Homo sapiens: one gene and its partner. The protein of the gene in region 1 interacts with the protein of each later gene in a pairwise test. Each region holds a gene or a part of one and is shown on either strand. Other genes may lie near its edges. The genes, in order: MZT1 and TRIM72.

The links.
Region 2: the proteins of MZT1 (region 1) and TRIM72 interact in binary tests that used the Homo sapiens proteins (3 or more experiments, as listed by UniProt).

What each region holds. Positions count from the first base shown.
Region 1 is NC_000013.11:72,713,221-72,725,630, reverse strand, and holds part of MZT1 (mitotic-spindle organizing protein 1), read left to right. Parts: intron 1-6,533; coding exon 6,534-6,679; intron 6,680-12,410. UniProt on the Homo sapiens protein: Required for the recruitment and the assembly of the gamma-tubulin ring complex (gTuRC) at the centrosome.
Region 2 is NC_000016.10:31,222,005-31,234,414, forward strand, and holds the end of TRIM72 (tripartite motif-containing protein 72), read left to right. Parts: intron 1-822; coding exon 823-941; intron 942-2,176; coding exon 2,177-2,751; 3' UTR 2,752-9,533; downstream 9,534-12,410. UniProt on the Homo sapiens protein: Muscle-specific E3 ubiquitin-protein ligase that plays a central role in cell membrane repair by nucleating the assembly of the repair machinery at injury sites.

The DNA of each region.
Region 1 (12,410 bases):
AAAAAGTGAAGTAAAACAAAAAATGAAGGAGAGGGGATGTGGTGTTACACAGTATTTAAATCAACCCGTGAGATCAAAAATAAAATTTTCAAAACTTTTTGAATACCATTTCTCCCCTCAATGGTAGCATTTGTGAACCTCCCTTTAAGTCATGTGAATTGCAGAACTCTTGGCTACATTTGCATTTTGATCATGAAATGAAAGGATTTTGTTAAAGACATGGAAGGAAGCAGGCTAACTTTCTATTAATAAATTATCTGTGCACCTCACTCTGAAAAGAACTATCTCTGCCAATTTAGAATAAGGTCTGCATGAGATCTCTGCTTTCATCCTTATATCCCTAAAATTCTACACGCTTAAAATAGTCGTGCCTTTTCAACAACACCCCCCTCGCAACCCACTGTGTATGGTTGCCTCTTTTGCTTTTCAACTTTTTGGTATGTTAGGTACTCTCTATTGATTGCTTTTTATACCTTAATTTTTATTTTCCTCTAAAATCGTCCTGTGCATCTGAATTTTAATTTTGATAATTATTCCTTATGAGAGGCTTTATCATAGCACTATTTTTTTTTTTTTTTTGAGACCGAGTCTGGCTGGAGTGCAGTGGCGCGACCTTGGCTCACTGCAACCTCCGCCTCCCAGGTTGAAGCTGGGGATGGGAACCAATTCTCCTGCCTTGGCCTCTGGAGTAACTAGGATTATAGGCGCCCGCCACCACGCCCAGCTAATTTTTGTATTTTTAGTAGAGACAGGGTTTCACCATGTTGGCCAGTCTGGTCTGGAACTCCTGACCTCAGGTGATCCACCCGCCTCAGCCTCCCAAAGTGCTGGGATTATAGGCGTGAGCCACTGTGCCCGGCCTGTAGCACCACTTTACATATATATATGTGTATATATATATATATATATATGTATATATATATATATATTTAGTAGTAAGTACGGGTGCCTGTAATCCCAGCTACTTGGGAGGCTGAGGCAGGAGAATCGCTTGAACCTGGGAGGCGAAGGTTGTCGTGAGCTGAGATTGCGCCACTGCACTGCAGACTGGGTGACAGAGCTAGACTCCATCTCAAAAAAAAAAAAAAAAACACGTTATAGAGAAAGGAGTTAAGAGAATCTATGGTATATAGATTCCATTTGACTAGCACTGCAAGGCAGTACCAGCGAAACAGTCCATGCTACCACCATCAATCCAGTTGCACATTTGAGAAAGAAATCTAGAAGTCAGTCTTGCTTTCTCACCTCCTCTGCCTCCTGTTCTTCACTAAGCCCTTTCAATTCTTGACTCATTTCAGGTTGGCTAAATATCTCCTGTTCATCCTACCCACCAGTCTTTTATCAAAATTGTGATATAACTGGACTTTTTAAAGATTCATTTGATACTCAGCCAAAAAGTCCTTAAAATGCAAGTTTGATTTTTTTATGTTCCTATTTTATATCATCCAGTAGCTTTCCACAGTTCTAAGATCTTCACTAGGACTTACCTCATATTTTATACCCATTCACCCCGTTAATTACATTGCCTTCACAATAGCAGTTCAGGTCTGAATTTACCAAGTTCCCTCTAGTGTAGGGACCATCACACAAGCTGTTTTCTTTGCTCTCAACCATCACCCTTCCTCCTGCCTCTGTATTAGTCTGGTTGATTTCTACTCACTTTTGATGTCTAAGTGTAATTGTCACTTCTTCAGACAAGTCTTTGCTAAACACTGTGTCCTTCCAAACTTGGTAAGATGCCCTTGTAATTTGTTTCAGAAGTATTCCACTCTTTATTTATTTTACTTATATCTGGAATCAGTTATTACTTTAATATCTATCTCTCCTCCTGGACTAATATCTGTGAGGAGTGGGACCATATATACCTTGTTCATAACTGTATTTGCAGCAGTAGCATAATAGGCACAAAATACATATAGTTAGAGGTTGATTATCTCTCATCCAAAAACCTTGGGACCATGTTTTGGATTTCAGATTTTTTTTTTTGTAATATTTTCACATACATAATGAGATATCTTGGGGATGGGACCCAAGTCCAAACACAGAATTCTTGTATGTTTTATATATACCTTATACACATAGCCTGAAGGTAATTTTGGTTTTTTCCCTCAGGGATGCTGAATGAACTGTGTATTGTGCACCTGCATTTTGACTTTGATCCATTATATGAGGTGTGGAATTTTCCACTACGGTGTTATGTCAGTACTTAATAAGTTTTGGATTTTGCGGCATTTCACATTTCAGATTTTGGAATTAGGAGTGTTCAACCTGTACTGATCATATGGTAGGCACTAAAGAAATAGTTTTTGATTACAGGCGATTTGTGAAAATAGGAAGTAAAAATAGGTGTCCATTTGAAAAGAAGGCTTAAAGAAGAAACCACAAATGAGATGGACTAAGAAAACAGCATTGAGTTATATGAAGGGAGGATAAAAGGCAGAGGAGAAAAGCAAGAACAAAGGCATGAAGTCAGGAATAAGCATAGCCTTTATACGTGGGGGGGTCTACCATGAAGAGAACAAACTGGAAACTGGAGAGAGAAGGGAGAGAATCAACTGAAAAACTGTTAGAAGCATCATAGAATTCATCAAGGTGACTGGTGATTAAAAAGTTTAATATGTAGTGTTCCAGTATACTGATGGTAACCACTTAGAATGTACAAGGGCTAAGTAGAATCCATTTGTGAAGACAGTCAAAAATAAAGTGAAGATTCAATATGGTAGATTGAGCACTTGCTGAAACTCTAAGCATATAAAAAAATAGGAAATAGTAAGAAAATATAATTATCAGGATAGACCTGTTCAAAAGCAAGAAGGGAAGTCTCCATTGATTAGGAAGAGAGAGGTTTCCCCCCAAAAGAAAGGAGCAGATGGGAACCACAGCAGGGGATTGTCGGGAATAGAATCTGACAAAGCATGCTACCCTGCCTCACTGAAGTTGGGAGTCAGAAATGTGCCATTTGTCACAGCCAGAGATTGAGAAGCACCATCCATGTGTTTTTTGGATCTGGACCAAAAATACTACAAGGCCTGATCTAGAGGCCTAAAGCTAGGGTACGGCTTCCTATCTTAGAATGGGCCACCAGTCCAGGACACCTAAAATAAATCTATGGAAGATGAGTTTTCAGCCAAGAATGACAAAGCACCTAAGGTAGATGAAAAACATGAGCAACTAACATGGAAAAGGAAAAAGAGGGAAAGTGGTAGTAACAGGGAACTCTTTTTTATTGAGCCCTACCGTATGCCAAGCACCATTCCAAAGGACTGCAAGGCAGTGTCAGCAAAACAAATGGATACCATTCTAAGTGTATCCTTTAATTCTCACACTAATCCTTTAAAACAGGTACTCTTATTATCCTCACTTTCGAGAATGGTGAAATAAGGCACAGAGAGAGTAACTTGCCTACTAAATACTACAGCTAGAATTTGAACACAGGTAGTCTGGCTCTAGAGATCACACTCCTAACCACTGTCTTTTGCTGCTTGCTTATACTCCAAGAAATAGAGATAATAGAGCAATCTCAAATACAGTTTAAGAATATAGCCTTAAATAGACGAAGGCAGGAACAACAGCTGTGAAATTTGTCACTATAAATAAGCATTTAGTTATAAAACAAGTGTTTATGGTGAGAAATTAGAAATTAGAAATCTTGAAAGCTACTGAAATAAATTTGAAATAAATTCAGCAGATAATATGAATAACAGGCTGGATACAGCTGAAGAGCAAAGTATCAGTAAATTGGAATATCAAAACTGAAGAAATGAAAATGGGAAGAGCTGTCATCTTCCAGCCAAGATGGAGTAACAGAGATTAGATTTATGCTTCTACTTGAAACAACCAAGAAAACTCAGGTAAAGCATACAGAACAATGGTTTTCAAGACACTGGACATCAGGCATCAGAGTACAGTGATCCCTTAGAGACAGGAAACAAGCAAAGTGATTTCTTGGGTTGCCCCAGCTCACTGCCTTCAGAGAGTTCCAGGCCTCAGTATAGCAGGGAGAACCCAGTGGACACACTGAAGTGAGTAGGAGGAGTTTAGAAGACCTGGGAGACCAAGGCAGGTAGAGTTTGAATAACAGTACCTGAGAGGGGAGAACTGCACAGAAAGAATGCTGGAGATCTGTAGAAGTGTCCCCCTTAAGTATTCAGAGCATTGATTAGCAGATGTGTGAGGAAAGTACTCAGAAAGCTGGGAGGGAACCATCTAGAAGGATTAGAGTGAACCGTGCACCGTGCTTACACAGGGCTGAGGATAGTGCCTGTAACTACCAGCCAGAATGGAAATCTTTGTAATTCATAAGACATTGGATACAGTACTCAGAATTCTTACCTCAATCATAAGGGGAATAATTAGCCCTATCCTAAACAGGGCTCTGGTCCTGCCTAACAGATCTAAGAAGTAATATCCGAAAGGATCAAACCATTTCCAGATAACGGTATCTCATTATAAAGCTCAAGAATTAGAAATACAAAACTATCCGGTACCTAAGTAAAATTCTAAGTACATGGCATCCAATCAAAGATTACCAGATATGCAAGGCAGAACAGTATGACCCATGATGTGAAAAATTCAGTCAATTGTAACGAACACCCCCCCGATCACACAGATGTTAGAATTAGCAGACAAGGGCATCAGAACTATACTCCATATCTCCAAAAAGTTTAGTAGAGGCATGAAAGACATTTTTTTTTTTAAGACTCAAATTGAACTGCTATTTTTGTTTGTTTGTTTTTTCTTTTGAGACAGAGTTTTGCTCTTGTTGCCCAGGCTGGAGTGCAATGGCGCAATCTCGGCTCACCGCAACCTTTACTTCCCGGGTTCAAGCGATTCTCCTGCCTCAGTCTTCCAAGTAGCTGGGATTACAGGCATGCGCCACCTTGCCTGGCTAATTTTGTATTTTTAGTAGAGACGGGGTTTCTCCATGTTGGTCAGGCTGGTCTCGAACTCCCGACCTCAGGTGATCTGTCCACCTTGCTCTCCCAAAGTGTTGGGATTACAGGCGTGAGCCACTGCGCCCGGCTCAAATTGAACTTCTAGGGATGAAAGTGAATATCTGATATGGAAGAAATGGGAGGGACCTATCTCATGAACATGATAAATACTATAAGAATTTTCAGAAAGACTTAGACTTAAATTAATGGGTGACTAAATATTGATAACTTGTCCATTCTTCCCAAAATAATAATGTAGTTTTTATACAGTTAATCAGAATCCAGTTGGAATTTGTTTTTAGAATTGATGAAAAATGTTCAGTTCATCCGAAGAATAAAATGGCTTATATAAATGAAAGATGACAACGGAATGTTTACCCTACTACATGCAATATAAAGTTAGAAATTAAATGGTTGCCCTTACAAAAGATAGACATGTAACAAATTTGTAAGTATATGGGAATTTACTATGAATAAAGGTGGCATCTCAACTGGGTGGGGAAAACTTAGGTCATTCAATAAATTTTACTGGGGCAACTGGCTCATTTCTGGGAGGAAAAGTTAGATCCTATTTTCCACCCAAACTCTAGGGAGATAAATACTTATGGGGGGTTTTGGGAAATAAACTTCAAAGTGCTGGAAGAGAATACTGGTGGATATAATCTTTTCATGGGGAATAATTTTCTAAGCATAATGCCAAGGGGAAATGATATAGGAAACAATAGATAATATGTTGACAGTTGACTTAAAATATTCTAAATACTCTCTGGGAAGCAATCTTAAAACAAAATTCAGTGGAACCGGTGTACTTACAACCTGTAATGGAAGGGATTCTGAAAATCACTTTGGAAACCAAGTTTCTCTGTTTGTGCTTCTCATGTTAAAGACAATGAGTTCTATCAACTACAATAAAATGCAGTACTATACAAATGAAGTTTAAAAAATATAAGGTTTCATTTTTATTATTAGATTCAACAGACATGATTACGCTGTCAAATTGTTATAAAAGTTTCTAAACACTTTTAAAGCCTTAAATATGTACATTACCTTTTTTTGACTATTGTATGTCAATTCAGCAAATTAAATATGTATATTACTGACTGAGCAGTTCTACTTCTAGAAATTTATCCTAATGAAATAAAATTTAGTATGTACAGATTCTTACCAATATTATTTTAATGAGAGAAACATGAGAGCAGCCTAACTTTTAAAGTAACAGAGTAGTTAAGTATAGTGTTTCCATAAAATGGAATAATATGCGACTAGTTAAACTGCATTTTAAAAGAATACTAAAAAATAAGCAAGTGTTCAGAATTATCCTAAGTATGGTGGATACATGTTAGATATTAAACAAGTGCTAGAATATATAGCAAGATGTAAAAGGCAGTTATGTGAAGGGAAGGTGTAAGTTTATATTTATATTTAAGTTTCTAAAACTAAGTAAAGGCAAGAAAGTATTACATGCAGATTTCCAAAACCTGGGATGCTATGCTAATTCCTTGGTATTGTGCAGTGATATATAAATTAATGAAAGTACTATATGCATATTTTTAAATGCTGTAAGCCTTAAGTTTTTTTTTTTTTTGTATCTTTTTTCAGTTCTGCTTGAGATTTCAAGAATTTTGAATACTGGCTTAGATATGGAAACTCTGTCTATTTGTGTACGGCTTTGTGAACAAGGAATTAACCCAGAAGCTTTATCATCGGTTATTAAGGAGCTTCGCAAGGCTACTGAAGCACTGAAGGTTGGAGATTCCTATTAGTTCATTCTAAATAAAGATGCTTTTATTTAGAAAAATGATTAATGATGAAGTTATGGGAAACATCCTGGTTAAACAAGGTTAAACTAACATGCAACACCACTAGAAGACCAGGAGCTCAATAGTGTATGTTCATATCATAAAAATTACTACTACTAGGCCGGGCGCAGTGGCTCACACCTGTAATCCCAGCACTTTGGGAGGCTGAGTTGGGCGGATCATGAGGTCAGGAGATCGAAACCATCCTGGCTAACACAGTAAAGCCCCATTCTCTACTAAAAATACAAAAAAATTAGCCAGGCGTGGTGGTGGGCACCTGTAGTCCCAGCTACTTGGGAGGCTGAGGCAGGAGAATGGCGTGAACCCAGGAGGCGCGGAGCTTGCAGTGAGCCAAGTTGGCGACACTGCACTCCAGACTGGGTGACAGAGTGAGACTCCGTCTAAAAAAAAAAAAAAGAAAAATTACTACTACCATGGACCATGTTATGTTTTCCCAGAAGTCTGTTTTTAGAATTGTGCTATTTGGTGAGTAAAATTGTGCCTGCTCCAGAAGAGGCATGTTGAGGTCCTAACCCCTGGTCCCAATGAATATGACCTTATTTAGAAATAATGCCTTTGCAGATATAATCAAATTAAGATGAGGTCATCCTGGATTAGGGTAGATCCTAACCCAATAATTGGTGGCCTTAGAAGAGAAATTTGGACACAAATAGCCAAGGAAAGTTAAGGATTTTCTGTGGCCATAAGAAGCTAGAAAGAGGCAAGGAAGGATATTCCCCTAGAGCTGTCAGAGAGCATGACCCAGCTAACGCCTTGGTTAAATATGTATAGTAGGTATGGATTTCTGGCCTTCAAACTGTAAATAGATTTTTGTTGTTTTAACCCACCTAATATGTGGTTACTTTATTATGGCAGTCCCAGAAATCTGATACAGATTTTGGTACTGGGAAGTGGGGTGTTGCTGTAACAAATACTTAAAAGTGAGGATGTGGCTTTGGAATTGGGTATTGGATAGAGACTGGAAAGTTTTAAGGTGCTTGATAGAAAAAGACTAGATTTCCTTGAAGAGGAACTGTTAGTAGAACTGTGAATGTTGAGGCAATTCTGGTGAGGGCTCAGAAAGAAGAGAAAAGAACTGTAGAGAAAGCTTCAGAGTTTTTTCGAGACTAACATTAGGATCAGAATGTTGCTAGAAATGTAAATGTTAAAAGCACTTTTAGTGAAGACCCAGATGGAAATGGGGAACATTTATTGGACACTAAAAGAAAGGTGGTCTTTGTTAGAAAGTGACAGAATGGGCCAGGCACAGTGGCTTAATGCCTGTAATCCCAACACTATGGGACACCAAGGTGGGTGGATCACCTGATGTCAGGAGTTCAAAACCAGCCTGACCAACATAATGAAACTCCATCTCTACTAAAAATACAAAATTAGCCAGGCGTGGTGGCACATGCCTGTAATCCCAGCTACTTGGGTGGCTGAGGCAGGAGAATTGCTTGAACCCAGGAGGCAGAGGTTGCAGTGAGCCAAGATTGCGATATTGCACTCCAGCCTGGGCAACAGGAGCGAAACTCCATCTAAAAAAAAAAAAAAAAAAAAGAAAGTGACAGATTGTGGCTGAATTGTGTTCTATTGTTGGAAGGAAAATAGAATATGTAAGCAATGAACTTGGATATTTCATTGAGGAAATTTCCAAGCAAATTGTGGAAGGTGTAGCCTGATTTCTTTTTGCTGCTTAATAATGTGACACAAATGAGCAATCGAGTAAGGACCTGCTAAGAGAAAAGGAACTAGCATCTGAGAATTTAGAAAATTCTCAGCCTGTCTGAATAACATGTTCTGGAGACAGGGCTAAGAGTGTGGCTACACTTTTGTGAAGACATTAGGTATGTGATAGAGCCAGTCAACCATCTCAACACAAACACTGCCAGCTTGGACAGGATGAAGTGAAAGAAGGCTATCAGATTAGTGGGATTGTTTAGACAGGAAACTGGCTGATAGAGCTGCTCAGCTGAGGGCCCATGTGTTATCCTTCAAGAAAAGGAAAAAGTGACTCCAAGAGCGCCTCAGAGACCATGGGACTGCTGCTGCCACCAGGTTCCCAGAGGGCCACCTTTTTTCCAATTCAAATTAACCACGTTTTAATTGCTCAGATTGGCAACTAAAAACATGTCCTATTCTGTCTTCCACAGACTTTCTGATTTAAAAGCTTGTGATTTTATTTCCCTTTTTATATAGCACTAACTCACTTTGAATACTGAAACTTTAAGTTAGTTCATCTTAAAACTTGTCCAAAACATGGGCTCATAGAGACGGTCAATGGGGGGAAAAACAAACAAACAAATAAAACCTTCTGATACCTGATACAAAGTGACTTCTCTTTTTTCTTACCTTTAAGAAATCAACTATTTAAAACATGCAATTTACATATCTTTCAGATTATTTTCCAATGAGTTCTTATTCTTTAGGTTTGTTTTTGTGCTTTTTAAAATCTCTTGATTATTAAATCTAACTAAAAAGGGTAAACCACATTTGTAGAGCTAAAATGTATCATAAAGAGAATATCCATGCAACCATCACTGCCAGCACCAGATAATCCCCCTTCTGCCCTCTCCCCAGTCACTAACCCCTCTCTCTTGCTCTCCTCTCCAGTAACTACTATCCTCACTTTTATGGTAGACTCTGTATTAGTCCATTCTTGAATTGATATAAAGAAATACCTGCCGGGCATGATAGCTTAAGCCAGTAATCCCAGTACTTTGGGAGGCTGAGGTGGGCAGAGCACTTGAAGTCAGGAGTTCAAGACCAGCCTGGCCAACATAGTGAAACCCATCTCTACTAAAAATAAAAAAATTAGCCAGGCATTATGGCAGGCACTGTAATCCCAGCTGCTCGGGAGGCTGAGGCAAGAGAATCACTTGAACCCAAGAGGCGGAGGTGGCAGTGAGCCAAGATTCACACCACTGTACTCTAGCCTGGGCAACAGAGGAAGACTTCCTCTTAAAAAAAAACAAAAACAAAAAAACCGGAGACCAGATAATTTGTAAAGAAAAGAGGTTTAATTGGCTCATAGTTCTGCAGGCTGTATAGAAAGCATAGTGGCATCTGCTTCTGGAGAGGCCTTAGGAAGGTTACAATCATTATGGAAACAAAGGGGGAGAAGGCATGTCACATGGCAAAAACAGGAGCAAGAGAGGGAGAGAGTGAGGTGCCACAGTTTTATGTAACCATAACTCTTAAGAATTCACTCACTTTAGCGAGTACAGCACCAAGAGGATGGTGCTAAACCATTCATGAGGGATGAATTCAGTCAACTCCCACCAGGCCCCACCTCCAACATTGGAGATTACAATGGAGATTACAACATTGGAAATTACATTTCAAGGTGAAATTTGGGTGGGGATGCACATCCAAACTATCATTCCCTCGCTGGCCCTTCCCAGATCTCATGTGTTCTTCTCACATTGCAACATACAATCATGCCTTCCCAACAGTCCCCAAAAGTCTTAACTCATTCCAGCAATAACTCAAAAGTCCAAAGTTCTGAGACAAGGCAAGTCCCTTCCACCTATGAGCCTGTAAAATCTAAAACAAGTTATTTACTTCCAAGACACAATGGGATTATAGACATTGGGTAAACATTCCCATCCCAAAATGGGTAAATCAGCCAAATGAAAGAGGCTACAGGCCCCATACAAGTTCCAAACCCAGCAGGGTAGTCATTAAATCTTAAAGCTCCAAAAAAATCTCCTTTGACTCTGTGTCCCACATGCAGGACACACTGGTGGGAGGGGTATGCTCCCAAGGCCTTGAGCAACTCTGCCCCTGTGGCTTTACAGGGTTAAGCCCCCATGGCTGCTTTCGTGGGCTGGCATTGTTGAGTGTCTGCAGCTTTTCAAGGCTCAGGGTACAAGCTGTCAGTGGATCTACCATTCTGGGGTTGGAGAACGGTGGCCCTCTTCTCACAGCTCCATTCGGCAGTTCCCCAGTGAGGACATTGTGTAGGGGCTCCAACCCCATATTTCCCCTCTGCACTACTCTAGTAGAGATTCTCCATGAGGGCTCCACCCCTGAAGCAGGCTTCTGCCTAGATACCCAGGCTTTTCCATATATCCTCTGAAATCTAGATGGAGGCTGCCAAGCCTCAGCCATTGTACTCTGTGCACCCACAGGCTTGACACCACATGAAAGTCACCAAGGCTTATGTCTTGGATCCTCTGAAGCCGTGTCCCAAGCTATACCTGGGCCACTTTGAGTCATGGCTGGAGCCAGAGTGGCTGGGATGCAAGAAGCAATGTCCCAAGGCTGTGGAGGGCTGCGGGGCCCTGAGCCTGGCCCATAAAACCATTCTATCCTAGTTCTCAGGGCCTGTAATGGGAAGGGCTGCCTCTTAGATCTCTGAAATGTTGTCTAGGCCTTTTACCCATTATCTTGGCTATCAGCACTTGCCTTCTATTTAGATTCAGAAATTTCTCTAGCAAGTGGTTGCTTTGCAGCCCCCTTGAATTCTCCTGAAAATGGGCTTTTCTTTTCTACCACATGGACAGGTTGCACATTTTCTAAACTTTTATGCTCTGCCTCCCCTTTAAGTATAAGTTCCAGCCTTAGGTTATTTCTTTGCTCATGCATCTGAGCATATGCTGTTAGAAGGAGCCATGCAACATGTTGAACACTTGGCTGCTTAGAAATTTCTTCCACCAGATACCCTAAATCACTCTCAAGTCCAAACTTCCACAGATCCCTAGGACATGGGCACAATGCAGCCAAATTTTTTGCTAAAGCATAACATGCATGACCTTTGCTCCAGGTCCTGATCCTGGGCCTCGGAGACTGTCATGGGAAGGGCCGTGTCTTAGATCTCTGAAATGCTGTCTAGGCCTTTTACCCATTATCTTGGCTATCAGCACTTGTCTCCTATTTAGATAGGGAAGTTTCTTTTTTACCTCAAACCTTTGGCTTTCATATGGCAGAAAGAAAAATAACTGAATAACAAGAATAGCTAATATTTATATGAATACTTTTCTCATGCCAGACCGTATGTTCTACAGGCTTTACTGGCATTATTTCCTCTATCATTATAACAGTGATAACTACTACAGTTTGAGCATTCCAAATCTGAAAATCCAACATGCTCCAAAATCTGAAATACTTTGAGTACCAACATGACACTCAAAGGAAATCCTCACTGGAACATTTCAGATTTTCTAATTAGGGATGCTCAGTCAGCAAGTACAGTCAGTCCTCTGTATTTGTGGGTTCTGCATCCATGGATTCAACCAGCTGTGGATCAAAAATATTTGGGGAACAGGGGGAAGGATGGTTATGTCTGTACTAAGAATGTACAGACTTTTTTTCTTCTCATGATTCCCTAAACAATACAGGATAACAACTATTTACATAGCGTTTACATCGTGTTAGGTATCACAACGAATCCAGAGATGATGTAAAGTATGTGGGAGGATACATGTAGGTTATATGCAAATACTATACCCTTTTATATAAGGCATTTGAGCATCTGTGGACCTTCGTATCTGTGAGGTGGGGAAGATGGGGAGTCCTGGAACTAACAATTCACCATGGATACCAAGGGACAACTTCAATGCAAATTTTCCAAAATTTTAGGACATCTGAAATCAGAAACAGTTCTGGTCCCAAGCATTTCCGACAAGGGATACTTATCCTATGCTACTATTAGTAGTTTACTGCTAAGGAAACT
Region 2 (12,410 bases), on another chromosome or scaffold:
GCGAGTGGGAGGGAAGAGGAAGCTGCGGTAGTAGGTGTGTGCACACTGGCGAAGCTGAGAGGCTTGGACCTTATCCCAACAGAAGGATTAAAAGAAAATGTAGTTGGGCCGGGTGCAGTGGCTCACGCCTGTCATCCAAGCACTTTGGGAGGCTGAGGCGGGCAGATCACCTGAGGTCAGCAGTTCGAGACTAGCCTGGCCAACATGGCAAAACCTCACCTCTACTAAAAACACAAAAATTAGCCAGGCATGGTGGTAGGCGCCTATAATCCCAGCTACTTGGTTGGCTGAGGCAGGAGAATTGCTTGAACTGGGGAGGCAGAGGCTGCAGTGAGCCAAGATCATGCCACTACACCCCAGCCTGGGTGATAGAGCCAGACTCAATCTCAAAAAAAAAAAAAAAAGACCAAAACCAAATAAACAGTGGTAAAATAATACATGTAACATAAAATTGACAATTTTCAGCTTCTTCTTCTTCTTTTTTTTTTTTTTTTAGACAGGATCTTGCTATGTTGCCCAGACTGGACTCAAATTTCTGAGCTCCAGTGAGCCTCCTGAGTCAGCCTCCCTGAGCAGCTGGGACTACACTCTACCTCGCTCATTTTAAGCATTTTTAAGTGTGCATTTAAATTCAGTGGTGCTAAGTACATTCACATTGTACAACCATCACCAGTGTTTATCTCCAGAATTTTCTCATCTTCCCAAACCAAAACTCCAAAGGAAGAGTTTTAAGCAGGGGTGCGATGTGGGGAGATCCTGGAATCCCCCCAGCCCTTGTCCTCCCCCCTCACACATGCCTCCCCTTCCCCTCCCCACCCCCAGGCTGCAGAAGATCCTGGCAGAGTCTCCCCCACCCGCCCGTCTGGACATCCAGCTGCCAATTATCTCAGATGACTTCAAATTCCAGGTGTGGAGGAAGATGTTCCGGGCTCTGATGCCAGGTACCGGGAGGGACTGGCTCAGGTTTGTGTGTGACCAGGCAGTTGATGGGAGGCCCTAGCCACCCTGGAGAGGCCTCCCAGTCCCAACTGGGGAGGCCACTGAAGGAGGTACCCATTGCCCCTTTGCCTCTGGACTGCCGCTGCAGTCCTCTAACCTGTGTTGGGAGGAGGGCCTTTGAGAGCATGGGGTTTGCAGTGGGTGACTGACATGAAAATGCTGCTGCTGTTGGTGGCACGGGACGCTGGGGCCTAGGTCTGAGCCACTGACTTGCTGTGTGATCCTTGGTCAGTCTCTGCCCCTCTCTGGACGGTGGAGATGATAAATCCTGCCAATTGGGGACTGAGGCTCTGCAGAGCTCCTGGAACCCTGGGGACTGGCCTGGGTCAGAGAGTGACTCTGGCGGCCTGTGGCTGGGGAGGCCCAAGGGCTCAGTTCCTCCCCCCAAGAGCTGGATGATGCAGGTTACAGAGCTCTGGGACATACACATTGCTGGGGCAGCCCTTCCTGCCTCAGCGCAGGTGGGAATGCAGACAGCCTCATTTTATTCAAGATAAAACTAAGGCTCAGAGACTGGGTCTAGGCTGATGTGAAGATCAGGCTCCTTGACCTTGGGCCTTGGGCCTTGTCTGGGCCTCAGATGGTGAGTCCCATGCCTTGTATCAATTTAGTCCTGTTGGCCAGGCTCGGTGGCTCACGCTTGTAATCCCAGAACTTTGGGAGGCCGAGGTGGGAGGATCACTTGAGCCCAGGAGTTGGAGACCAGCCTGGGCAACATAGTGAGAACACCTGTCTCTACAAAAACTTAAAAAAATTAGCCAGGTGTGGTGGCACGTGGCTGTAGTCCCAGCTACTTGGGAGATGGGAGATGGGAGGATTGCTTGAGCCTGGGAGTTGGAAGTTGCAGTGAGCCTAGGTTGCACCTGCGCTCCAGCCTGGGCGACAGAGTGAGACCCCGCCTCAAAAAAACAAAAAACAAAAACAAAAAACAACAACAATAACAACAACAAAAACAAAAAGAAAATGCAGGCCTGCCTGCAACCCTGGAGGGAAGCAATCATGGCCTCATCTCACAGCTGGGCAAACTGAAGTTGAGCCAGGTGTGATCTTGTGGCCCAAGCCCAGTGAGCAGAGATGCCAAGAGGATTAGGGGAGAGAAAGCTGGCCTGCAATTGGTTGGGAGAAGACCCCAGCGAGGCAGAAACCTAGGGTTTTCTGACCGTGTTCTCTCTGGCAGCGCTGGAGGAGCTGACCTTTGACCCGAGCTCTGCGCACCCGAGCCTGGTGGTGTCTTCCTCTGGCCGCCGCGTGGAGTGCTCGGAGCAGAAGGCGCCGCCGGCCGGGGAGGACCCGCGCCAGTTCGACAAGGCGGTGGCGGTGGTGGCGCACCAGCAGCTCTCCGAGGGCGAGCACTACTGGGAGGTGGATGTTGGCGACAAGCCGCGCTGGGCGCTGGGCGTGATCGCGGCCGAGGCCCCCCGCCGCGGGCGCCTGCACGCGGTGCCCTCGCAGGGCCTGTGGCTGCTGGGGCTGCGCGAGGGCAAGATCCTGGAGGCACACGTGGAGGCCAAGGAGCCGCGCGCTCTGCGCAGCCCCGAGAGGCGGCCCACGCGCATTGGCCTTTACCTGAGCTTCGGCGACGGCGTCCTCTCCTTCTACGATGCCAGCGACGCCGACGCGCTCGTGCCGCTTTTTGCCTTCCACGAGCGCCTGCCCAGGCCCGTGTACCCCTTCTTCGACGTGTGCTGGCACGACAAGGGCAAGAATGCCCAGCCGCTGCTGCTCGTGGGTCCCGAAGGCGCCGAGGCCTGAGCCGCCGGACGGGTAGTGGAGGGGCGCGGGGGCCTGGGTTGAAGCTTAGGTCTCCTTGGTCGGGTCTGACGGGAGAAGGGTGGGGAGCGGGTTGCCAGGGCCCAGGGGGCTGGGAACTGGGGGATCTCCCAGAATACTGACAAGCGTGGGGTAGGACTGGCTTGGTGGCTCATGCCTGTAATCCCAGCACTTTGGGAGACGGAGGCGGGTGGATCACCTGAGGTCAGGAGTTCAAGACCAGCCTGGCCAACATGGTGAAACTCCTCTCTACTGAAAATACAAAAATGAGCTGGGCGCGGTGGCATACGCCTGTAATCCCAGCTAGTTGGGAGGCTGAGGCAGGATAATTGCTTGAACCCAGGAGGTGGAGGTTGCAGTGAGCAGACATTGCGGCACTGCACTCTAGCCTGGGTGACAAGAGTGAGACTCTGTCTCAAAAAAAAAAAAAAGTGTGGGGGTTGGCATGGCCTGGGGACTGCTGGTGAGGGGTTGGAGTGACGCTGGGGACAAGACCCAGTGGGGTAGGGAGATCTGGAGTCAGGTCAGTGGGGAAATCAGAATTTGGGAACCAGGAGGCCTGAGAATTCCAGGAAGAAACTAAGGTTGAGCGAGGGAGGGACAGGGCCAGGTTGGGGGATTGATGGGAGGAGCTTGAGAACCTGTAGATAAGGGGCTCCTTTTGCCTCACACTCCCCTCCTCCTTAGGCCTTGGGTCCCCCGCTCCAGATTCACCTTACCCAAAAGCCTTCTCCTTAGTTCTCCACCTTAGGCATGCATTAAAATCACCTTTTTAAAGCCCTTAGCCATGACTTGTTAAAGCATAGGGTGCTAAGTTTCTGATTTAGTAGGTTGGACAGGTCAAAAATGCTCATTTCTTTTTTTTATTTCTTTTTTTTTTTTTTTTTTTTTTTTTTGAGACAGAGTCTTGCTCTGTCACTCAAGGCTAGAGTGCAGTGGTGCCATCTCGGCTCACTGCAACCTCTGCCTCCAGGGTTCAAGCAATTCTCATGCCTCAGCCTCCCAAGTAGCTGGGACTACAGACGCCCGCCACCACACCTGGCTATTTATTTTTATTTTTAGTAGGGGTTTCACTATGTTGGCCAAGCTGGTCTCGAACTCCTGACCTCAAGTGATTCACCCGCCTTGGCCTCCCATAGTGCTGGGATTACAGACATGAGCCACTGCACCTGGCTGAAAATGCTCATTTTTTTTTTTTTAATTTAGTTTTTGTAGAAATGGTGTCTCGTTACATTGCCCAGGCTGATCTTGAACTCTTGGCCTCAGGTGATCCTCCTGCCTTGGCCTTCCAAGTGCTGGGATTACAGGTGTGAGCCACCACGCCCTGCCAAAAATGTGCATTTCTAGCAGGTTCCCAGGTGACGCTGCTGGCCACAGGGGCTGACGCTGCGGGAAGCCCTGACCTAGTGCACAACCCATTGGGCTCTTCACTGTCAGTGTAGAGGCATAGGTCCAAAATATGTTTCCCCAGTCAAAAACATGTAAGGTTTGCACCAGGAGTGGAAGGAAACAAACAAACATAAACCAAAGCAAAGACACTTAAGGGCTGGGTACTCATGCCTGTAAACCCAACACTTTGGGAGTTTGAGGCAGGAGGCTCATTTGAGGCCAGGAGTTTGAGACCAGCCTGGGGAACATAGTGAGACCCTGTTGCAACAAAAACCAGAAAAACAACAAAAAGAAGACATTGGAAAATGGCTGGAGCTGATTCTAGGTGAATAAACAACCCTCGACTTAACTTGCTTTGCCTCTGGGATATGTTTATCGAGCGTCTTGAACGTTGAGGAAGCCAGCCAAGAGAAAGAGCCTGATGCCAAGGTCACACTGGTCCCTGCTGCTCATGGGGAAGAGAAGGCCCCCAACTAGATGTCCCAGAACTGGCCGCTCCCCACTTACTTGCTGGTTCACACCTTCTTTGGTTTTAGCGCACAGGGCATTTCTTGGGCTCTGGAGTAACCACTGAGGCCAGAGTGAGAGTCCCTCTTCCCTGGAGGGAGAGGCCTTTGGGGATCCAGACAGGCTTCTCTCCTGAGGGAAGACGCTGGCCTGGGGTCACTCATTTTCACGGGGAGGGTGTGCTGGCGGGATGGGTGGAAGGGCCTGGGGCCCCGGCAGCCCATTGCGGAGGTTTTCTCGGGAGATGGTGGGTATGGGACTAAGGGTGAAAGGGAAGTTGTGAGTTGGGTAAGAAAGGCCTGAGGATCTGGCAGGGGAAGGCGGCACACCTGGGTGTGTCTCCCAGAGGAAGGCCTGTGGAGCCCTGGCTTCAGGAGACAGAAGAGAGGATTAACGGTAGAAGCTCTTTCATGTTAGAAAATAAAACAATATAGCTAAGGGATTATTTGGTTGTAAAATCCAACACCATTAATAAAACTGTTATATTCTGACTCCTTCCTCATTAAATCCACATGAAAAGACATGTGACCTACTGCAAGGCCTCCTAATTGCCCTCCAGCCTTTAATCCTGACTTGGTAATGTTTCCAAAAATGCAAATGTGGTCACGGGACTCAGTTGCTCAAAACTTTCAACAACTCCCTCTTGCCTACAGGATAAAGCCCCCAGTCTTTGGCTTAGCATTTGAGCTGTTCTGCCATTTTTTTTGTTGGTTGGTTTGTTTGTTTTGTTTGAGACAGAGTCTCGCTCTGTCGCCCAGGCTGGAGTGCAGTGGTGTGATCACCGTAACCTCCGCCTCCTAGGTTCAAGGGATTCTCCTGCCTCAGCCTCCCGAGTAGCTGGGATTACAGGTGCCCGCCAGGCTGGTCTCGAACTCCTGACCTCAGGTGATCCACCCATTTTGGCCTCCCAAAGTGCTGGGATTACAGGCTGGCCTTCCAGCTTCATCTGTTTTTAGTTAAAAAACAATTTTTTTTTTTGAGACAAGGTCTTGCTCTGTCGCACAGGCTGGAGTGCAATGGTGTGATTGTGGCTCACTGCAGCCTTGACCTCCTGGGCTCACATGATCCTCCCACTCCAGCCTCCTGAGTAGATAGGATGGCAGGCACCCATCACCATGCCTGACTATTTTTTATTTTTTGTATTTTGGTAGAGATGAGGTCTCACTATGTTGCTCATGCTGGTCTCGAGCTCCTGGCCTCAAGCGATCCTCCCATCTTGGCTTCCCAAAGTGTTGGGATTACAGGTGTGAGCCACTGAGCCCAGCCCAGCTTCATCTTTTATTTTATTATTATTTTTTGAGATGGAGTCTCACCGTGTCACCCAGGTTAGAGTGCAGTGGTGTGATCTTGGCTCACTGCAACCTCTGCCTCCCAGGTTCAAGTGATCCTCCTGCCTCAGCCTCCCGAGTAGCTGGGACTATAGGCAGGTGACACTACGCCTAGCTGATTTTTGTATTTCTAGTGGGGACAGGGGCTTCACTATGTTGGCCAGCCTGGTCTCGAACTCCTGACCTCAGGGGATCCCCCAACTCGGCCTCCCAAAGTACTAGGATTACAGGCTTGAACCGCCGCGCCCAGCCCCAGCTTCATCTTAAAAAGAAAAGTTCTCTGTTTTAATATCTAACAGGGCAAATATTGAAAGATAAAACCACATAACAAAAGCTCTTTGGGATCCTAGTGTTGGGGAAAGGCTGCTGTCCATTGACTGTCACTGAACTCTCTGTCATTGCTCAGGCTAAGGACTGGCCACAGTGAGGGAGGGACCTGTGGTCTCCTGTGTTGCTCCTCACCCTGTAGACTGTGGGCTGTGGGCTGTGTCCAGCCTCACCTTGGATCACCGCCCTGTGCATGTCTACACTCTGGCTATGCTGAACTGAACTGCTGGGGTCTCTGCACCTCCTTTTTTTTTTTTTTTTTTTTGAGATGCAGTCTTGCTCTGTCGCCCAGGCTGGAGTGCAATGGTGCTATCTCAGCTCACTGCAACCTCTGCCTCCCAGGTTCAAGTGATTCTCCTGCCTCAGCCTCCGCAGTAGCTAGGATTACAGGCACCCACCACCACGCCAGGTTAGTTTTTTCATTTTTATTTGTATTTTTAGTAGAGGCGGGGTTTTGCCATGTTGGCCAGGCTGATCTCGAACTCCTGACCTCAAATGATCTGCCCGCCTCAGCCTCCCAAAGTGCTGGGATTACAGGCATGAGCTGTCGGGCCTGGCCCCTGCACTTCTTTTTTAGGAATGTCAGTTCCCTCCCACTTATCCTTCATGGCTCTCCCAAAACACCACCATTTCCTGTCCTCTCTTGACCTTCTAGGCCTCCAGGAAGAATCAGTTACTCTCCTCTCTGGATCGCCCAGCAGCTCCTCCACCATGTGTAGCCCACGGCATTGAATTGTCTACACACAGGCCATGGTGTCTGGAGGGATGGTGGTATCTGAGACCCAAAGCCTCCTTCTGAGGAAATGGGTACTCTGAGAAGCAGATGCCAAGATAGGATTAAATGGGCAGAGATTTTAGGAGGGAAGATGCCCATGTGAGGGAAGATGGGGAGGGCCATCAGACCGTGTCGCAAGTCTGCTGTTCGTGTGGGAGGGAGGGAGGGAAGGCTCTTGTGGCGTCTCCGGCAGCCAGAGCCACCGTCCAAACACTCCTGTGCCTTCCGGGACCCGGGCTGGCTTTAGTCTCCCTGCAGAGCTGAGTAATGTATGCTGCCTTTTGTTGGAATTATATCAGGAAACTTTCTTTCGAAGCTGCCACAGGTTCTTTCTGCGTATAGTTGCCCCAGCTTGAGCTGCATGCATTGAAGGAAATGGCCCATGGCTGACTGAGTGAGGTGGGCTTTGTGGGAAAAGCTGCGTAATCCAGGTGGTCCTTGTCGGGTGGGGCTGCCTGACCCAGGCAGGGTCTCCCTGGGGATGTAGGAAGGTGAAATGTGAACAGAGAAAGGAGTTCCTCCAGCACATGTGTTCTAAAGCACCAGCGTCCCCTCCGTGAGTCCCTCCTCTCCACGGGAACGCTGGAAACCCCCAGAAACTGGCTGCCAAGACATTTCCTGTGTTTCCTGACATCTTTAGGTAGCATAATAGCAAACTTGAACCTGCCAAGGCCATGATAAAACTGCAAGCAAGAACATTTATCGTGGCCAGGTGCAGTGGCTCACGCCTGTAATCCCAGCACTTTTGGAGGTTGAGGCGGGTGAATCACCTGAGGTCAGGAGTTCGAGACCAGTCTGGTCAACATGGTGAAACCCCATCTTTACTAAAAATACAAAAATTAGCCAGGCATGGTGGTGCATGCCTGCAATCCCAGCTACTCAGGAGGCTGAGGCAGGAGAATCACTTGAACCTGGGAGGCAGAGGTTCCGATGAGCTGAGATCGGGCCACTGCATTCCAGTCTGGGTGAGAGAGTTAAAACAGGAATTAAAAGAAATTAAAGAATGTGTAAGCAAAAACTCAGTTGTATGTAAGAAAACCCCATTCACCCTGAGGAAGAGAAAGAGCTAAAGTCCTTTAAAAATTAACTGCCTGTTTTTCTGTGGATAGTGAGCCTTATCTCTCTCCCTTTCCCAGGCATTGTGAAGACCCTGTTTCTCTAGCTGTGCAGCTGCAAGGTCACTAGGCAGATAAACTCAAGTCATAAAACATGTTTTTCCTTGAAAAGTAAAAAATGATGTAATGCATGTCTCAACTGAATAACTGTCTTTGTTTCTTGCTTCTGTAATATGCTTCCCCCTGCACAGATCTCCCCCTGCCCCACAAAATGCTTAAAAGGTAACCGGAGCCGGGCGTGGTGGCTCACGCCTGTAATCCCAGCACTTTGGGAGGCTGAGGCAGGCGGATCATGAGGTCAGGAGATCGAGACCGTCCTGGTTAACATGTTGAAACCCCGTCTCTACTAAAAATACAAAAAATTAGCCGGGCGTGGTGGCAGGCACCTGTAGTCCCAGCTACTTGGGAGGCTGAGGCAGGAGAATGGCCTGAACCCGGGAGGCGGAGCTTGCAGTGAGCCGAGATGGCGCCACTACACTCCAGCCTGGGTGACAGAGCGAGACTCCGCCTCAAAAAAAAAAAAAAAAAAAGGTAACCGGACTCTTTGTTCAGGGCTCAGTCTTTTTGGATGTTAATCTGACCGGGCCAGTGCACCTAACTAAATAATAAATAATAAGTATCCTCCTCAACCTCTTGGTCTCTCTGATTCCTAAATTATCCCACTGCAGAATGAGACTCTGTCTCAAAGGAAAAAAAAGAAAATTTATTGAGACCTTATTATGCGTCAATAGCTCTCTATTCAGAATCTCACTGATCTTCGCAACCCTGGATCTCACAACAACGAGAGCCCCACTAGGTTGCCTCTTTTGTTTTGTTTTGTTTTTTTTTTGAGATGGAGTCTCACTGTCTCCCAGGCTGGAGTGCAGTGGCGTGATCTCGGCTCACTGCAACCTCCGCCCTCTGGGTTCACGCCATTCTCCTGCCTCAGCCTCCCAAGTAGCTGGGACTACAGGCGCCCGCCACCATGCCTGGTTAATTTTTTTGTATTTTTAGTAGAGACGGGGTTTCACCATGTTTGCCAGGATGGTCTCCATCTCCTGACCTCGTGATCCGCCCGCCTCGGCCTCCCAAAGTGCTGGGATTACAGGCGTGAGCCACCGCGTCCGGCTTAGGTTGCCTCTTATACTGGGTTCACGCATCCCCTGGGTGCATGACAGTCTGACCACAAAGGACCCCGGTCCACAGAAGCATGATGCATCTTGGAGTATCGACTTTATGCCAATATTCTTCTTCTTGATACTGGTGGTGGTGAGAAAGTTGGGTAATTTAACCAAAAGTAAAAATCAAGATGTCACGTTCCCATTAAAACAAACATAGAGTACAGAATCTGTGTGAATTTTCAAGCTAAAACAAGAGATGTCGCTCTCCCTCTCCCTCTCCCTCTCCCTCTCCCCATGGTCTCCCTCTCCCTCTCTTTCCACGGTCTCCCTCTGATGCCGAGCGGAAGCTGGACGGTACTGCTGCCATCTCGGTTCACTGCAACCTCCCTGGCCTGATTCTCCTGCCTCAGCCTGCCGAGTGCCTGCGATTGCAGGCGCGCGCCGCCTCGCCTGACTGGTTTTCGTAGTTTTTTGGTGGAGACGGGGTTTCGCTGTGTTGGCCGGGCTGGTCTCCAGCTCCTAACCGCGAGTGATCCGCCAGCCTCGGCCTCCCGAGGTGCCGGGATTGCAGACGGAGTCTCGTTCACTCAGTGCTCAATGGTGCCCAGGCTGGAGTGCAGTGGCGTGATCTCGGCTCGCTACAACCTCCACCTCCCAGCCGCCTGCCTTGGCCTCCCAAAGTGCCAAGATTGCAGCCTCTGCCCGGCCGCCACCCCGTCTGGGAAGTGAGGAGCGTCTCCGCCTGGCCGCCCATCGTCTGGGATGTGAGGAGCCCCTCTGCCTGGCTGCCCAGTCTGGAAAGTGAGGAGCGTCTCTGCCCGGCCGCCATCCCATCTAGGAAGTGAGGAGCGCCTCTGCCCGGCCGCCCATCGTCTGAGATGTGGGGAGCACCTCTGCCCCGCCGCCCCGTCTGGGATGTGAGGAGCATCTCTGCCCGGCCGCCCCGTCTGAGAAGTGAGGAGACCCTCTGCCTGGCAACCGCCCCGTCTGAGAAGTGAGGAGCCCCTCCGCCCAGCAGCCATCCCGTCTGGGAAGTGAGGAGCGTCTCCGCCCGGCAGCCACCTCGTCCGGGAGGGAGGTGGGGGGGTCAGCCCCCCGCCTGGCCAGCCGCCCCGTCCGGGAGGGAGTTGGGGGGGTCAGCCCCCCATCCGGCCAGCCGCCCCGTCCGGGAGGGAGGTGGGGGGGTCAGCCCCCCGCCCGGCCAGCCGCCCCGTCCGGGAGGTGAGGGGCGCCTCTGCCCGGCCGCCCCTACTGGGAAGTGAGGAGCCCCTCTGCCCCGCCAGCCGCCCCGTCCGGGAGGGAGGTGGGGGGGTCAGCCCCCCCGCCCGGCCAGCTGCCCCGTCCGGGAGGGAGGTGGGGGGTCAGCCCCCCGCCCGGCCAGCCGCCCCGTCCGGGAGGTGAGGGGCGCCTCTGCCCGGCCGCCCCTACTGGGAAGTGAGGAGCCCCTCTGCCCCGCCAGCCGCCCCGTCCGGGAGGGAGGTGGGAGGGTCAGCCCCCCGCCTGGCCAGCCGCCCCGTCCGGGAGGTGAGGGGCGCCTCTGCCCGGCCGCCCCTACTGGGAAGTGAGGAGCCCCTCTGCCCGGCCACCACTCCGTCTGGGAGGTGTACCCAATAGCTCATTGAGAACGGGCCATGATGACAGTGGCGGTTTTGTGGAATAGAAAGGGGGGAAAAGTGGGGAAAAGATTGAGAAATCGGATGGTTGCCGTGTCTGTGTAGAAAGAGGTAGACATGGGAGACTTTTCATTTTGTTCTGTACTAAGAAAAATTCTTCTGCCTTGGGAAAAAAAAAAAAAAAAAAAAAGAGATGTCCACAAAATTTTGCATTGGTGCTGGCCATTTGTATAGGCCTTCAGACTCTCAAAAATGTGAGTTCTTAAAATTATTATTATTTATTTTTGAGACAGGGTTTCACTCCATCACCCAGGCTAGAGTACAGTGGTGTGATTTCTGCAGCCTCGACCTCCCAGTTTCAGGTGATCCTCCCACCTCATCCTCCCAAGTAGCTGGAATTACAGGCACACGCCACCATGACTGGCTAATTTTTTTAAGTTTAGTAGAGATGGGATTTCACCGTGTTGCCCAGTCTGGTCTCAAATGCCTGGGCGCAAGTCATTCACCTGCCTCAGCCTCCCAAAGTGTTGGGATTACAGGTGTGAGCCACTCCGCCTGGCCTAAAAATACTTTATTGCTAAAAATGCTAAGGATCATCTGAGCCTTCAGTGAGTCATAGTCTTTTTGCTGGTGGAGGGTCTTGCCTCAATGTCGATGGCTACTGACTGATAAGGATGGTGACTGCTGAAGGTGGGGGTGGCGGTGGCAATTTCTTAAAAGAATTTCTTAGGCCAGGTGCTGTGGTTCACGCCTGTAATCCCAGCACTCTGGGAGGCCGAGGTATGTGGATCACCTGAGGTCAGGAGTTCAAGACCAGCCTGGCCAACATGGCAAAACCCCATGTCTACTAAAAATACAAAAGCTAGCTGGGCGTTGTGGTGGGCATCTGTAATCCCAGCTACTCGGGAGGCTGAGGCAGGAGAATCACTTGAATCCAGGAGGCGGAGGTTGCAGTGAGCTGAGATCATGCCATTACACTCCAGCCTGGGTGACAAAGTGAGACTCTATCTCAAAAAAAAAAGAATTTCTTAAAAGAAGACAATAATGAGGCTGGGCACGGTTGAGTCATGCCTGTAATCCCAGCACATTGGGAGGCCAAGGCAGGTGGATCACCTGAGCTCAGGAGTTCAAGACCAGCCTGGCCAACATGGTGAAACCCCGTCTCTACTAAAGATACAAAAATTAGCTGGGCATGGTGGCTGGTGCCTCTAATCCCAGCTACTCAGGAGGCTGAGGGAAAAGAATTGCTTGAACCCAGGAGGCGGTTCGGTGAGCCGAGATTCTACCATTGCATGCCAGCCTGGGCTACAAGAACAAAAGTCCATCTCAAAAAAAAAAAAAAAAAAGACTTGAAAGGCAAAATGACTCTTTGATCCATGCACTGCAGAAGAGATGTTGTGTTAGCAGCTGTATTAGTCCATTCTCACACTGCTGTGAAGACATACTTGAGACTGGGTAATTTACAAAGGAAAGAGATTTAATCAGCT